Linked DNA regions of Homo sapiens: region 2 is linked to region 1. A link means that fine-mapping ties the variant in region 1 to the expression of a gene that starts in the linked region. Tissue or cell type: whole blood. Region 1 holds a variant in brackets; the other region holds the start of a gene. All regions are shown on one strand. Distances are from middle to middle. Region 1 overlaps LOC105370777 (a long non-coding RNA gene). Region 2 holds the start of THBS1 (thrombospondin 1).

Region 1 (8,411 bases):
TCATTCATTGAGCTACAAAAGAACCACTTGATACTAGTGTCCAAATTCCAGTACTTTAATGAGGTACACAGATTCTCACCTAAACTCTTTACATGTACACTACTCTTTAAAGATACTTAAAATAATCTTAAACTAAGTGAGCAGTGGATAGAATTGAGGTAATCCTGACATAGTCTACATACAAGTGCTTTCTTACAGCAAAATAGAAACAACAGAATCTGATTCTATACCTAGGTCTTGTTTCTTCAATAATCTTTGAGTTAATCTGTCCCAGAATTAATGCCTGTGCCATTGCCCAGAATGCTGAATGACCCTGGCCGATACATGTTGACTTGCTCAGAAGTCTCTTCAGGGGAAGCTAGCTAAACATGATCTGGGAGAGGACTACGCTTGAGGACGTATCAGGTCTCTACTTTTCATGTTTTTCTCTTCCCATTCTACTTTCCACAAAATATCCAGAGATTCTTAGAAGGGCCAAATGTTGAAGGTGGTCATGCACAGGCCTAGCTTGATTCCCAGCCAGGGTAGGAGTTTTCTAAAAATACTATCCCCATCAGATTCCTGATACTTATAAGTTTAAAAGTTGAACAAAATCTTATATACACAATGTATAATGAGTCTTAAAATGTTATTTCCTAGGAAAAGGAAATCTATGATTTAAAGTTAAACCAAAGTATAAATATGTGGTATCAGAGATAAGGAAAATCATGGTCAGAAAACCTGAGTGCAGACCTCAATTCTGCGACTTTTCCCCATCTTTGTGAATCTGGACAGTTTATATATCTTGAATCTTAGCTTCTTGGTTTGCAAAAAAAAAAAAAAAAAAAAGCATAATAATTAATGCCATGGAGATTTTATAATTAAAGGGAGAATAAAACTAATGCACCAAACTAATATAATCAATATTGCCAACAACGAATGATGTTTAGTCTTCATTCTTACTTTATCCATTAGCAGCATTTGATGTCCTTGACCCCTCTCTGATTCTCAAAACGCTTTTTTCCCTTGGCCTCCTGGATCCTACACTCTCCTAGGGTTTTATCTTCCTCCTTTGACTGGTTGCTTCTCAGTTTTCTTTATTGTTTCCTCATCTTTCTGGCATCTTAACATCTGAGTGTTCTAGGGCTCAGGAGTAGGAAATCCTCAGCAGAAGCAGACTGCAAAGTCAAACCTTTCAAGCATTCAGAACCAGCAAAGTCTGCCTGTGGGCAGACAGAAGAGCTGTCCACTATGTAGTGAGAATAAAACTCTACCCAAATGTAGATGTCTGCTAAACTCCAACGGTGAAAGGAATGGGATGTGACCCCATGATCAGGATTACCCAGAATAATCCTCACTTCAGTCTGGCCGACATCCACAAGTATCTTATATTTGGCCCACCTCGAACTGAGGAGGACTCAGACACATGTTACTGCCCCAGCCTGAGGCCATCAAAGAAAACATCTCAAAGATTCTCTTTTACCAAAAAGATTCATGTCAGATTTTCAGACTAAGGCCCTTGGTACTAATGAATTTTGAGTTGGAGTGGTAGCCTTGGCAAAATAATGATGACAATTCAATTTAGGCCTCCTAATATGTGGATGTTCCTGGAGGTGGAGGAAGAAAACTTGGACACAACTGGAATGTGTGTTAGACAGCAGAAATAGAGGCCATGACCAGCTTAGGCCCTAGGTTCCTGAGATACAATAATTCTTCTGAAATGGTGTCCTTTTACTCTGTCTTCCTAGAAGAACTCAGCTCTACAAGTTTTAAAACATTGCTGGGAAGAATGATCTCCATTTTAAATTCTGGATACACGGAGCTCAAGATGGCAACAAATCCAACACTAAAGAAACCGATACTCCTTAGGCACTTACTTTATGCCTAACATTGCTATGTGTGATTCACATGTTATCTCCATTAATCCCCATAATTACAGGGACACACTAGTATGACCCCCACTTTATAGGTGAAGAAATTGAGGCTCAGAAAATGGTTAAGCCACTTACTCAAGGTTGCCCAGCAAGTGATGGAGTCAAGATGAAAATAGGCAACCCGATTCCATAGCCCACATGCTCCATGGCCCTGGTGCTCCATGCTCTGTGCACAGACTGGCTGAGGCAGAGCTGCAACAGGATCCCTGACAGCTAAAGTTGCCATTACAATGATGATTCGTATCCTTCATTTAAATATAGATGAACACCACAAAATGACAAATGTATCTTTATGTTAAAGGTGTGTCCATTATGATGCAATAATTGGCCCTTTTAGCATTTTCATTGCCACGAATCACACATTATGTAACTATTACTAAGCTAATCCCACTAAAGCCTATTAATGTCAGAAAGACTTGGGTGTTTCACTACTAAACTGTCTCTGAGGATGTTTTAACACTTGTTCTTAGGCTGCATTTAATATCTGCAATTATGGGGAAAGGATGCCATGAAAACTATCCTTAAATCCTTTTTTATTTATTTTGTTTTGAGATGGAGTCTCGCCCTGTTGCCCAGGCCGGAGTGCAATGTCACAATCTCGGCTCACTACAACCACCTCCACCTCCCAGGTTCAAATGATTCTCCTGCCTCAACCTCCCAAGTAGCTGGGATTACAGGCGCCCGCCACCACACCCAGCTAATTTTTGTATTTTGAGTAGAGACGGGGTTTTACCATGTTGGCCAGGCTGGGCTCGATCTCCTGACCTCATGACCCACCCACCTCGGCCTCCCAAAGTGCTGGGATTACAGGTGTGAACCATAGTGCCGGCCAAATCCATTTTTAACACAACCAAACAAAACATCAACTTGATTGAGAGCTCCAGGACATTGATTGAGAGCTGTTGCCATATGTTTTTAGGCTCCAGTATATCAAGGCTAAAGTGCTCACCATTGCTAGAGGACAAAAACACACAGCAGCTGCTCAGCAATGCCTAAGCCTGTGGCCCAAGTCGAAAAGAATTAGACCAAGTATTACAGTAATCAGGCCTCAAGCAAGCAAAAGCCTGGCTCAATACTAAGAACCCCCTACTAATGGGGAGAGCACACCTCCATACTCCGGTGCCTGGGGAAACATTTCCCAGGAGTGTGGTGGTGTTCTGCCTGCTGGGAGATAGATACCATTAACCTCTCTTCTTACTATGTTTGAACTCCACTTGCACTCTTATCTCTGAATTTTGTCTTGTTTCCACTAAGTATTGCTTGCCCCTTCTTCTTCATACTCAAAAATATGGATGTAATATACCTGCCTCTAAGGCCCCTTTGAAAGTTCATCTTCACCCCCAAGTTAAACAGAAAACCCTCATGCATGTGTGCAGTCTGATTTCATCTTATGTGGCGCTCCTCCTACTGACAAAATATGTTCTCACTCTGAGAAGTTTCCCTGTGCCGCTTTAGTAATAAACAAATCCACCTGTGTTTGCATCCTAGGCGTTCTCAGTGTACCACACTTGAGCTCTGCCTCCCCGGTTAGGCATCTGCTCTGGAAGCACGAGGAATATTGCTTTCAGTCCTCTTATATTCCTGATACCCTTGACTTTGCAAGGCCTAGCAATACGCGGCACTTACTATAAATTAAATAAATAAAAATCCATTTAAGTCAATCAAACCAACAGCTCTCTGTTTCTCCTGTGAAATGGAGAGGCAGATGAGTAGCCCAGCATTCTGCATGGTTCCCCTGATGCACTCTCCCTGCCCACTGAAGCAGCCCTGCAGTTCCACCCAGTCATTCCCTGCTTCTCTGCACCATAGTGACGGGTCCACCTAGAAGGAAACTCCCTTTAAAAGTTGCTCCATTAAACTGATAAGAACAGATACTACACTTGATTTTAGCCAAGAGGATATGGAGAAATAGGAATGCTTTTACACTGTTGGTGGGAGTGTAAATTAGTTTAACCATTGTGGAAGACAGTGTGGCGATTCTTCAAGGATCTAGAACCAGAAATACTATTTGACTCAGCAATCCCATTACTGGATATATACCCAAAGGATTACAAATCATTCTACTATAAAGACACATGCACATGTATGTTTACTGCGGCACTATTCACAATAGCAAAGACTTGGAACCAACCCAAATGCCCATCGATGATAGACTGGATAAAGAAAATATGGCACATATATATCATGGAATACTAAGCAGCCATAAAAAAAGGATGAGTTCATGTCCTTTGCAGGGACATGGATGAAGCTGGAACCATCATCCTCAGCAAACTAACAGAACAGAAAACCAGAAACTGCATGTTCTCACTCATAAGTAGGAGTTGAACAATGAGAACATATGGACACAGGGAGGGGAACATCACACACCAGGGTGAGGGGCTAGCGGAGGGACAGCATTAGGAGAAATACCTAATGTAGATGATGGGTTGATGGGTGCAGCAAACCTCCATGGCTCGTGTATACCTATGTAACAAACCTGCATGTTCTGCACATGCACCCCAGAACTTAAAGTATAAAATAAAATAATTATAAATTTTTTTAAAAAGTTGCTTCATTCTGGGGACAAGAGACCACCAAGCTGTTGCATGTTAGAACAGACCTACTGGGAGGCAGTAGAGGGCACTGTGGACTCATGCCCATGACACCCCCAATAAGCACACCTATGGCAAAGAGGAAGTGCCTAAGTCCACAGGTCTCGAGTTTGTAGTGCGCATACCTCCTGCCCAAGTCTATTGCTGCTGTTGCTTAGCCCTTTCAATATTCTTTTCTTACATTTTGTTTTTCTTAACTGTATCAAAGCTTGTGAAAAATTCATATCAGTTATTTCAATTTTTCTGAAAGATTCAGTAAATCAGATATTGTTTTAAAACAATCATCACCAAAGCCACGTGGCTTAGTGAGGATTGTTTTAAAACAGTCAATGAGGAAGTTAGGAAATAATTCTTCATCTCCAGACTTAATTGACTAAGTCCCAAAGATTATTAC[C/T]CTATATTATCTCTTAAATCACACCCCCTCTTACTTAGGACAGGAACATACCCCTGAACAACAGTGCTCAGCTGAGGGGGTGAACAAGGCTAAAACCCAGCCAATCACTGCTGGCAAGGCCTTGAGCCCTGGCTCCAGGCTGCACCTGCCTTAGGAAGGGGCGTCTCTCTACGACACTGAATGGCCTCCTGTGGATCACCACAGACCTGCTTTAACCACCTTAACTGCAACCACCTTGTTCTTGGCCCTTATTTATACGTTGACCACTATGACCATCTCCTAACACTCCTAGAGGTAACTTAAACTGCATACACACACATATATTCATAACTGAACAAGCTTTATGCATATTTACAAATTAAATGTGCCATCACTGAAATTCAAATTAAAAGCATTAATCAAATGTGACCAACATACTGTTTGACTAAAATTGAACCTCTTCTGCTCCAGGGAGGATAAGGAGCTGACAGCTATGTTACAAGATCTATCTAGTTTTGTACTATATAGACCATGTGTTATGCAATGACTCAATATCCAATCAATGTTTTCTCTGATAAAGTCCTTCCAAACTGTCTGTTGGCATCATTTGGCCATTATGAAGTTTATGTTTGTTTTAGTCTCATTATGTGGAAACAGTTAAAGCAGTCCTACTGGAACCCAAATAATCTTATGTTCAAATGTCTACTTGGACTTAAATCTCATTTTAGTACACAGGCAATAAAATAATGATCCCGATAATCCAGATCCAGATAATCCAGAAGGTGCTTATTGTAGTTAAACATAAACAAAAGTAAGCTAATTGCTAAATTTAGAGCCCAAAAGGGCCAGACCACCATCATACCTGAATTTATAGATCAAAAGAAACCAAGTTGAAATCCAACTCTTTCCTTACAGGTTTTAATATTAGATGGCTACAGGAGGACTCAGGCTTAGAAAACACCACTTCTCATGCTTATGGTATTAAGCCCTCCTTTCAGTAAATAAGGAAGGGGATATATCCTCCATGAGAAACTTAAATAAATATAGCTGTTCTTCCACTGACCTATATTTCCTATCAGAGAACACCAAATACTATGTAAATAGAAAATAACTCTACTGTTGAGATAATCTATAAGAGGGTCAGCAAACCATAGCTTTAGGGCCAAATCCAGTTCTTGCCTTGTTTTTGTACTTCCTGAAAGCTAAGAATTTTTACATTATTAAAGGATTATTAAAAATGAATTTATAATGGAGACAGTATGATAGGTCACAAAGTCTAAAATTTTCTACCCTGTCTATGTAAAGTTTTCCAACCACTGAACTAGATAATACCCTAATAAAGAATATTACCAATGAAAACTACATAGAGCTATTCATCATTTCTATGTAAATTCACTGTCAAAAAATGATCATCAGAAATAAGATGGACATATTTTACCATCCATGAACTTTTATTTCTTGGACTTCTATGTAATAAGGGTTCATCAGTGAATGTCCATGTAGAACATTTTTTGTCCAGTCAAGTCTAATGTGTTTAAACTGGCCAGTATTTGATAAGACTAACATCTTTATCACAGCCTCCATCCTGAACTGCTTGCCTTCATCCAACTCAAGCCCCATTACCTAACGTTTTCCTGAATGTTAGTCCTCCTGAGAGCTCAATTTGCCCTCTTTGGGCAGCATTGCCTTGATCACAAATCTGCTGCTCAAGACCCCTTTTCTGGCTCTGATCTCAATTTCCATTTGCAATCACTCATTTGATTATGCTCTTCAGAACAAACCAGGATTGTCTCACTAAGTCTAGCCCGTTCTTACAAGACAGTTCTTACTGTACTTACTGTACAATGCAGCTGATGAATGCCCATACTGGGATGAAGCCAGGCATACTGTCACCCAGTGACTTGGAAATTTAATACTCAACTGATGATGCCAGGATAGGAAGCCAGCCAAACTGGCTCAGTCAAAACAAAAATCTTCTTTCCTTTCTTTTGATTTTTGCTCCAAAATGGCTAATTCATTTGATGGGGAACTTGAGTTTTCTTTATAGAGTGAAATTGAGAAAGATAATAATTAATTTTGAAAATATATACAGAAACATTGGAGCTCTAAGGCAGTCTGAGGCAATGCCTTTTAACTAGGAGCCAGAGATCCCTATGACAATGCTTCTCAGTGTTTGGTCCAGCTCACTTAAACCAGAATTCTCTTGAGTGCTTATTAAAAATTTGGAATCCTGGGACTAACTCTCTAATATCTGATGAATCAGAATTTTTGAGAATGGAGTCCCACTATTATTGTGGTTGATAAAACTTCTGGACCAAGACTTAAGAGGCCAACATATGGTCTTTAGGGGATTTTCTTATCCACTGAAATTATTTGCAAAAATACATGATGGTTGATGGTTCGAAGTGCATTTTTCTAAAATGACCCTATTCATCTTCATCAAATTATCAAAGCAATCTATAGTTTGAAATAAGAATCACTTGTTTTAAAGGAAAATAAAATTGAATCAAAATACAAAGCTTAAATTTCTCTGAGCACCATTTCCTGCATGACTGGTAAGTCTTGCCTTCTCTGGGAAGCCATTCTTCCTTCTTGCCCATGTGCCATACAGCTCTTCATACATACCAGCAGCTTAGACCTCCAGGAATTTCCATTTCACCCAGGGAAGCAGCTTTGGTAACTTCTCTTTGAGATCAGAGCTCCCGTATGGTGAATCTGGGGTCTCAATTTACTGTTCTCTACTCTAAAGTAATTTGTATGAAGTGAATGATTGTCCATGTCTGGGGCCACAGGGCCTTTCTCATGGGCCACAGCTGGCCCCATCAGCTTCTAACACCTATGAGGGAAGCACAGCTGTGGGGAAAGTATTGGACTGTTCAGATTTTCCTCCTCAGTTGGTGAGGCCACTCACTTTATTTCTTTGCTCCAGTTCCTCTTTAGTGAAATAATTTTTTTAAAAAATCCAACTCTACTTACCAACCAAAGTTTATAAGAATAACAAACATTAGAGTGAGAAAGGTAGAGATTGTCCAGTTGCTACCTAACCCCAAGCTATCAAAGCTCAGTGAATTTAAGGGACCCTTGCAAAGTTTTCAGCTTGATAAAAACTGTAAGAACTGTAACATCATTTCATTCGATCCTCAAGATGCTCCAGTGAGAGATGCACTAGCTGATTTTATCAGATCATTTAGCTCTTTCCACTTCATTAAACTAGCTCAAAAAGGTATAATAAATATGCAATATCTTCGACAATAAAAGGCAAGTATAAATATAATGCACTGTTTTACTATTATCTCACCTGTGACTCTGAATTTGACTTCTGTTTCCAAATGGAAATAAAGACTCATCAGCCACATGGTGTAATAAACAGGAGGAGAGGTAGCCATCTCCCTGTGGAAAAGGACCCTTTCTTAGGCCACTTTCCTAAGTGCCATTGATTTGGTCACTCCTTCATTCCTCTCTGAGCAATTATCTGACCTTTTAAAACCTGATTTCTCATAACCAGGCTTCCTATCCACAAATCTTGCCTCAACC
Region 2 (8,411 bases), 270 kb after region 1:
GATGAGTTTGAGACCAGCCTGGCCAACATGGCGAAACCCCAACTCTACTAAAAAATACAAAAATTAGTTGGATGTAGTGGCACACGCCTGGAATCCCAGCTACTCAGGAGGCTGAGGCAGGAAAATCGCTTGAATCTGGGAGGCAAAAGTTGCAGTGAGCTGAGATTGTACCACTGCACTCCAGCCTGGGAGACAGAGCAAGACTCCATCCCACCCCCCACCAAAAAAAAATTCTGGTCTTTACATGTGAAAAAATAAAAGCTAATTTTTAAAAACTAAATAATAAAGAGTGTTAGGTGATAAGTTTTATGATAGAGATAATGTGTGCTTTAAAACACACAGCATAAAACAGATGGAAAACACCTCATGGAGAAGGGAGAGCTTGAATTGGTGTTTGATTGAAGGACAAGAAAAATCTGTTGGTAACTTCCTCCTGGCTCTGACCTCTGATGCAGTTAAAGTAAAGCAACTTAGAATTATGATCTAGGGAACATATTCAGAGAGAAATGAATTTATGATGTCTTCAATTTGAAGATGCTATGATTTTAGACTATTCTAGAATACAATGATTTTTCATTGCTTCACACTTGTAAGAAATGTTCCACTACTGAAAATTTGCAACACTTAAAAAATTCCTACACAAAATCACAGCCCACCTTGCTGTTCTATGCTAAATAAACAAAATATTTTTTCTCAATTATGTTGCTCTCCTTAATTACACGCAATTTTAAAACTAGCTGTAACTGACAGCCCTTTCCTCACACTTACTGCCAATGTATTTAGGTCAATCCCACCTCCAATTAGAGAAACTTAGAAAAAGGAAATCCTACGGTGAAATGCCATATGCCTTACAATTTTCAGTAACTAATCCTCAAGGATGACAACTTGGCAAAAAAGAGAACTGGACCAGCTCCCTGAAAGGTCCATCACTTCGGCCCATGTTAATTGATTGCCTTAAAATCACAGTGCTTCCAGGTTGTAGAGACACACTCAAAATGGACTATTGCCCTCACATTAAAGGGGATAGGTTTTCTTTTCCCTTTTCCCATCCCTGCTTCTCTCAAAGCTGCACAGAGGTATATGAGGTTTGGGGAATATTTGCAGCACATGTTGGCTGGCAAGAATGTGGGTGAATTCCTGTTAAGGGGCGCAGACACTCCCTCTTCTATGACCTTTCCTTTCCACCCAGAACAACTGAAGTATCATGATAAGAGGAAGGGCTTTGTGTTTGAGATAAGCAGCTCCTATACCTGTCAGCTTTCTCTAATAAGAAAGCTCTTTCCTGCCACCGTATAGGTCACCTTCTTATTGGTAAAGCATGATGAAGTTTGGAAACTGTTGTCCTTGTTTTGTTGAAAGAAGCCAAGTTCCAAGAAATCTGCAGAGGCATTCCTACAATCCCTCAGCCATGGCAGCATGAATCCTGAAGGGGCAGTGAGTGCTGGTTTCTACTCTGTCTGCACAGCTAAGCCTAGGGGAGATAATCTTTTCATACAAGATGCATTCTGCTTTTGTGGGCCTCTTGCAGCCCTCAAGCCCCCATCTGATTTGTACACAATGATCCAGTGGGCCAGAGGAGCCCAGAGCCATGAGCGGCCCATCCCTCCAAGAACTATTTCTGACTGTCCAGTATCATGGAGCAAGTGGAAAGAAGAAAAAAAAAACCCAATTACTTTTCGAAGAGCAAGATGAATGCTGTAGAAGGAGAAGGAAGGGGAGGGAGATGGATGGGTGCCGATTCCAGAATCTTCAGATCTGCTTGGATGAATCATTACCTATGATTTGCGGGACAAGAATCTGATTTTATTCATCAACCAGTAGAAACTTTTCTTTCTGCCTCCCAACATCTGAAATCCAACAAACATGTGCCTTAGGAACATACCGGTCATCTTTTAGAGGCATTTTATATACATATTGAGTAACTAGAAAACACTCTTTCCGTAATACACACACACACACACACACACACACACCATCTTGTCATACAACACTCCCACGCAAGAAAAGCGAAACTGCTGTTTGATGAATGTAAACACTTGGCTGTTTGCAGCAGTCGGGAGTCCTGCCAGGTTTAAGTGCTAAGATGGGAGGTGAACCCCAGGGGTTTCCCCCTGCCCGTGCTGAGATCCTTATTTGGTCAAGCTTCTACCTATGCCCTGGCCTCGGAGCGAGCCCGATAGCGCTGGATCACAGCAGAGGGAGCGAGGCGGCTGACGTCCCATCCCGAAGAGATGAATGGAATTCCAGGAAGCTAGAGTCATGCTGGCTTGGGACAGTGGCTTGGAGACCAGACTTCAATGACAGAAGCACTAGGCAGCGGCACTCATGGCAATGTGTGCACCCACAGAAATGTAACCCACACCTCGGGTTCAGGAGCCGAAAAATGAAAAGAACGTTTAGGGAGGAAAAAGGGAAATACAATAATAGGCAGAGAGTAATTTATTACTCTATGGGTCTGCTCTGTAAATAGCTGAAGACTCTGGAGCCAGATGGTTCTGCAAATTCTCCAAACAGGAGTCACGTTAAGAAGCACGAGTGGGCACAAAAACTGTTTTTCAAGACACAATTTCAATTTGGCTTGTGGAAACTGGATACGAGTAAGTTTCCTTAAAATTCGAGTAGAAAGCAGCTGTCCTCCCCGGGCCCCTTGATGAGAATACGCACACCGCCCCCAAGCGGCCGGCCGAGGGAGCGCCGCGGCAGCGGGAGAGGCGTCTCTGTGGGCCCCCTGGCAGCCGCGGCAGGAAAGGGCCCGAAGGCAGCGAAGGCGAACGCGGCGCACCAACCTGCCGGCCCCGCCGACGCCGCGCTCACCTCCCTCCGGGGCGGGCGTGGGGCCAGCTCAGGACAGGCGCTCGGGGGACGCGTGTCCTCACCCCACGGGGACGGTGGAGGAGAGTCAGCGAGGGCCCGAGGGGCAGGTACTTTAACGAATGGCTCTCTTGGTGTCCCCTGCGCCCCGTCGGCCCATTTTTCTTTTTACAAAACGGGCCCAGTCTCTAGTATCCACCTCTCGCCATCAACCAGGCATTCCGGGAGATCAGCTCGCCCGAAAGCCCCTGCGCCACCCCGCGGGCCCTCCTAGGTGGTCTCCCCAGCCCCGTCCCTTTTCGGGATGCTTGCTGATCACCCCGAGCCCGCGTGGCGCAAGAGTACGAGCGCCGAGCCCGTGCGCGCCAAGGCTGCGTGGGCGGGCACCGACTTTTCTGAGAAGTTCTAGTGCTCCCAAGCCCCGACCCCCGCCCCCTTCACTTTCTAGCTGGAAAGTTGCGCGCCAGGCAGCGGGGGGCGGAGAGAGGAGCCCAGACTGGCCCCCACCTCCCGCTTCCTGCCCGGCCGCCGCCCATTGGCCGGAGGAATCCCCAGGAATGCGAGCGCCCCTTTAAAAGCGCGCGGCTCCTCCGCCTTGCCAGCCGCTGCGCCCGAGCTGGCCTGCGAGTTCAGGGCTCCTGTCGCTCTCCAGGAGCAACCTCTACTCCGGACGCACAGGCATTCCCCGCGCCCCTCCAGCCCTCGCCGCCCTCGCCACCGCTCCCGGCCGCCGCGCTCCGGTACACACAGGTAAGTCGCCCCCGGCGGCCGCCGAGGACCAAAGCTGCCCGGGACATCCACCTGGAGCGCTGAGGCTTCAGTCCCTCTGGTGGACCCCGGAACCTACACTCTCCCCGCTCGCCTACCCCAGCCCGCTCCTCTCAGCCGCTGGAGGACTCTTCAGGGCAAGGCTCCAGAGCCATCCTCTCCAGCCTTGAGGTTCACAAACCAACTCATCAGGACACCCCAAGATTTCCTTACTCTCTGAAGTCCTCCTTAAGCCTTTGTATCAGCACTCCAGGGAAGAGTCTGTACTTCCCCTGCCCTCCCTGCAACCCCAAACTACAGTTCCTGATCTTGCTCACCTTCGACTTCCCAAAAGCCCCCAAATTGTTGGTCTTGCGCCCCCCACACTTTAAAACCAGCATCTCTTTCCTCCACCTCTCTCTCTCTCTCTCTCTCTCTCTCTCATGCTCTCTGGAAAGTAATCCTGTTGTCCTTCATTTCAGCAAACGCGGGGTCAAAGAGGGATGGTCCCGGCCCTGTCCCCATGCCCAGCCCCGTTTCTGCGCACCGTCCCTCCCTGCCTAGCTGATCTCTGACCCTCGGCTCTTGTGCTTCCTGCTACAGGATCCCTGCTGGGCACCAACAGCTCCACCATGGGGCTGGCCTGGGGACTAGGCGTCCTGTTCCTGATGCATGTGTGTGGCACCAACCGCATTCCAGGTGAGTTTGTGTGGCACCTTTAGGGGAAGGAGGGACAAGGAAGAGGTGCTGGCTATCCCAGGTGTGCCCCCTCACGTGCTGTCCTCTCCCTCTTGAGCCTGACTGGACATCAGGACGCAGCTTCACTCTGATCCTGGTATTTATTCACCTCTTTCAGTGGTTGCCAGGAGTTTTCACCCCAACCCTTTGTCTCCACCCCTAAGGACTCAGCCCCCTACTGCTGGTCCCAGCCTAGAAAGCTCACTTTGTGTTCTCTCCTGTCTAACAGAGTCTGGCGGAGACAACAGCGTGTTTGACATCTTTGAACTCACCGGGGCCGCCCGCAAGGGGTCTGGGCGCCGACTGGTGAAGGGCCCCGACCCTTCCAGCCCAGCTTTCCGCATCGAGGATGCCAACCTGATCCCCCCTGTGCCTGATGACAAGTTCCAAGACCTGGTGGATGCTGTGCGGGCAGAAAAGGGTTTCCTCCTTCTGGCATCCCTGAGGCAGATGAAGAAGACCCGGGGCACGCTGCTGGCCCTGGAGCGGAAAGACCACTCTGGCCAGGTCTTCAGCGTGGTGTCCAATGGCAAGGCGGGCACCCTGGACCTCAGCCTGACCGTCCAAGGAAAGCAGCACGTGGTGTCTGTGGAAGAAGCTCTCCTGGCAACCGGCCAGTGGAAGAGCATCACCCTGTTTGTGCAGGAAGACAGGGCCCAGCTGTACATCGACTGTGAAAAGATGGAGAATGCTGAGTTGGACGTCCCCATCCAAAGCGTCTTCACCAGAGACCTGGCCAGCATCGCCAGACTCCGCATCGCAAAGGGGGGCGTCAATGACAATTTCCAGGTGAGGCTTCTTCTCTGAGCCCTGCTCCGTGGGATCATCTGCTAGACAGGTGACCTGCCAGGAGGGCTACAGGAAATCCTGTCTGTAAACTAACGCAGCAGTTCTCAGATTTTAGGCAGCATGAGCATCACCTGGAGGGCTTGTGAAAGCTCACCCTGCTGCACCCCAGCCCCAGAGTCTGGGATTCTGTAAAACTGCAACTCTAACAAGTACCAGGTGATGCTGATGCCGGTGGTCTGGGAAGCACACTTTGAAAACTACTCAAGGAAACAAGAAATGGTTTTCCTTTAGCAGTCAGCCTGTTCAAGCCTTAGATACTCCTTAGGCTCTTAAGAAAAGAGCTTATTTCAAATGCATTCCCCCAATTTTAATCTTGTTTGAAATGGATACTTTCTATGGGCAGAATCAGTACCACTTTGCTATTGGATTCCTCATGGGGATGCAGCTGGTCTCACATAAAAGGTTAAAATAGCAGTTAGTTGTTGCTGTTACAGCTTCATCTGTGCCTTAACTTCTAGATCTTTGCAACGGTGGCTTTGAACTCCCACATTTAACTCTTTGACACTGGAAAGTGTCATTATATCCTCTAGGCTTAGGATCAGATTCCATTTCCTGTGTACCCAAGTAGGCTGATAACTGAATTCTTTGTAAAATACTCAAGACTTGGCAGAAGTCACAATTAAGATTTTGAAGTTGTTTGGCGATTAATGTTGCTGTGTTATTTTGACATAGTGATCTTAAGACAGCTCTTTGAAGCTTTTAGAACATCTATTGTATGCTTTTCCTAGCATACAGACAGTCTCCCCCAACCCCATCCCCACCCCGCTCTGCATTCTACAAGTAATGTGTGTCCTCTGCCCACAGGGGGTGCTGCAGAATGTGAGGTTTGTCTTTGGAACCACACCAGAAGACATCCTCAGGAACAAAGGCTGCTCCAGCTGTGAGTACCCCTCTATTTTTAGGGCACATAGGGAATCAGGGGGAATTCCACCAAAAACAAACTGAGGAATTTAGCAATAGTGGTTATACATAAATTACCCCCAGTGAGATCATCAAGAGGCATACAGAAGTGACTCCAAGGGGTATTATACACACACACGTATACACACGTGCGCATACACGCAACCCCTCTACCTGCATCCTTCACACCAAATGAAACGTCTTCTACCACTAAGAACTCAAGAGGCTGGTTGGTAAGAGTATCTATTTGAAGTTTTCATTTTGTTTCTTGCCAGCTACCAGTGTCCTCCTCACCCTTGACAACAACGTGGTGAATGGTTCCAGCCCTGCCATCCGCACTAACTACATTGGCCACAAGACAAAGGACTTGCAAGCCATCTGCGGCATCTCCTGTGATGAGCTGTCCAGCATGGTCCTGGAACTCAGGGGCCTGCGCACCATTGTGACCACGCTGCAGGACAGCATCCGCAAAGTGGTCAGTGGCCTCTGCACCCAGCCCGTTAGCATGAACCCTGGAAGGTTTATCGCAGATGGTCCCAAATGACTGAAAATGCGGGGGGACACTAATGATATTCTCTCCCATTTAGACTGAAGAGAACAAAGAGTTGGCCAATGAGCTGAGGCGGCCTCCCCTATGCTATCACAACGGAGTTCAGTACAGAAATAACGAGGAATGGACTGTTGATAGCTGCACTGAGTGTCACTGTCAGGTAAGGGACCTTCACCAGCCAGAATAAGAATCGACGGCTTTTGTTTGAACCTACATCTTTGGGGAAATACCCTAATCGCCACAGAGATTCTTTTTATGTTCCATGGCCTGATAACAAAGTGTTTTTTTTTTCTTTAAGATGCAATTATGGCATCTATAAGTTCTTCTTTAAACTCTCAGATGGTTTATCAAAGTATTAATTATACCCCAGGCTAAGTATCTAAGAGAATGAATCTACTAAGACATCTGAATAATTTACCTACCTTAGTTCAAAGACTAAGTGTTGAATGTCAGGTAAATAAAACCTGGTTGGAACATTCATTTTTTTTTCCCAACCCTGATTTATATTCAGCTTTGGCATAGGTTCTTTTAGTACAGTAGCAATTGTTTTTCAAATCACTTAGTCTGACACTGTTAGGATGTTACTGTCTGCTTTGCTCAGATGGCACTGCCAGGTGTGTGATTCACTCTAGCATCCCCGCATGCCAGTGGCCAGTGAGTTTGGAGGTTCACCTGGCTTATCTATTAATAGCAAAGTATTTGAATTTGCTTAAATACAAATCACAGATGACTGGCTGTGGGAACCAACTTCATTAAATTCCCTTTCTTTTCCAATATAAAGACAGATCACAGATCTATAGATGAGGAAAAAGTGCTTATAGATCTTCCTTCCTCCCCCCAAACACATAATATAAAAATGTAAAAGTCCTGGCTGAATTTTCTGAGTTTGATTTCAGACATAGATTTGACCCATGATGTTTGTTGGTTCCTCTGCTATAAATTCTTTGTACTGTAACTTCCACCCTTGACTAAGTAGCAATTAAAAAGAACTTTCCAAGGAATGGAGTGACACGTAAACTAGCACTAGAACTGTCTCTACGATAGTGGTGGCTGCAAATATGACAGAGACAGATCTATGAAAATCATTCCACTAGAGCATTGACAGCCCTGACCATGTTTTGGCTTGTAAAGGAAATGTTACAGGATGTAGACTTCTGTATGCAACATGCTCAGCAGCCTGTTCCCCTCTCACTCTCTTGCCCTGCAGAACTCAGTTACCATCTGCAAAAAGGTGTCCTGCCCCATCATGCCCTGCTCCAATGCCACAGTTCCTGATGGAGAATGCTGTCCTCGCTGTTGGCGTAAGTTTCTCAAATGGCATAGCTATTCTTCAGTGACTAGGTCAGTTCTACATACATCCTAGACAGCCGAGCACAACACTGGAACCCCACCCCCATCTCCATCATGCTTCCATTCAGTTTCTTGCTGCAGCAGCTGGTTAACTGACAGCTTATCTGCTGTACAGAGCCAAAACTCCATTATGAGTACATCGTAATTACCCATCTGGATTGCAGTAATGGCAGTGAAGATCTTGGTATAGCTCATTAATTCTGATTTTTTGCTTTGAGGAAAAGAGATGAAGACGTGGCAGCAACAGCTCTAAGTTGACTGCTTTTAGAATTTGACCTTAGTGGCACAGAGTTAAGAAAAATCTGCTCACCAGAGATATTGACAGGCTTACTGTGTAAGCATTGGCCTGATCGGGCCTGGAAGTTTTGCCCCTTTCATCTGTAGGGATAAGAGGGCCTAAGAGAATAGCAGCAATCTGAGCTCTAGAGCACCAAAAGAAATAAGGCACGATATCGTTCCATGGCAC

What was found.
Region 2: it holds the start of THBS1, and the variant in region 1 is fine-mapped to the expression of THBS1 in whole blood (INTERVAL, PIP 0.98).

What each region holds. Positions count from the first base shown.
Region 1 is chr15:39,308,629-39,317,039 of GRCh38, forward strand. The region is part of intron 1 of LOC105370777 (a long non-coding RNA gene); the gene reads right to left. Among named protein-coding and RNA genes, the nearest start is that of LINC02915, 62 kb to the left of the region's middle. The variant C/T (reference allele first, on the strand shown) is at 4,899.
Region 2 is chr15:39,577,668-39,586,078 of GRCh38, forward strand. It overlaps THBS1 (thrombospondin 1), which reads left to right and starts at 3,412. Exons shown (of 22, transcript NM_003246.4): 1 at 3,412-3,561; 2 at 4,162-4,257; 3 at 4,526-5,085; 4 at 5,950-6,025; 5 at 6,321-6,520; 6 at 6,633-6,755; 7 at 7,803-7,896. The coding sequence starts at 4,191. It overlaps LOC124903470, which reads left to right and starts at 2,140. Exons shown (of 1, transcript XM_047433405.1): 1 at 2,140-3,327. The coding sequence starts at 2,651. The coding sequence ends at 3,085. RefSeq lists an enhancer at 2,503-3,240 and silencers at 2,663-2,892, 2,903-2,952.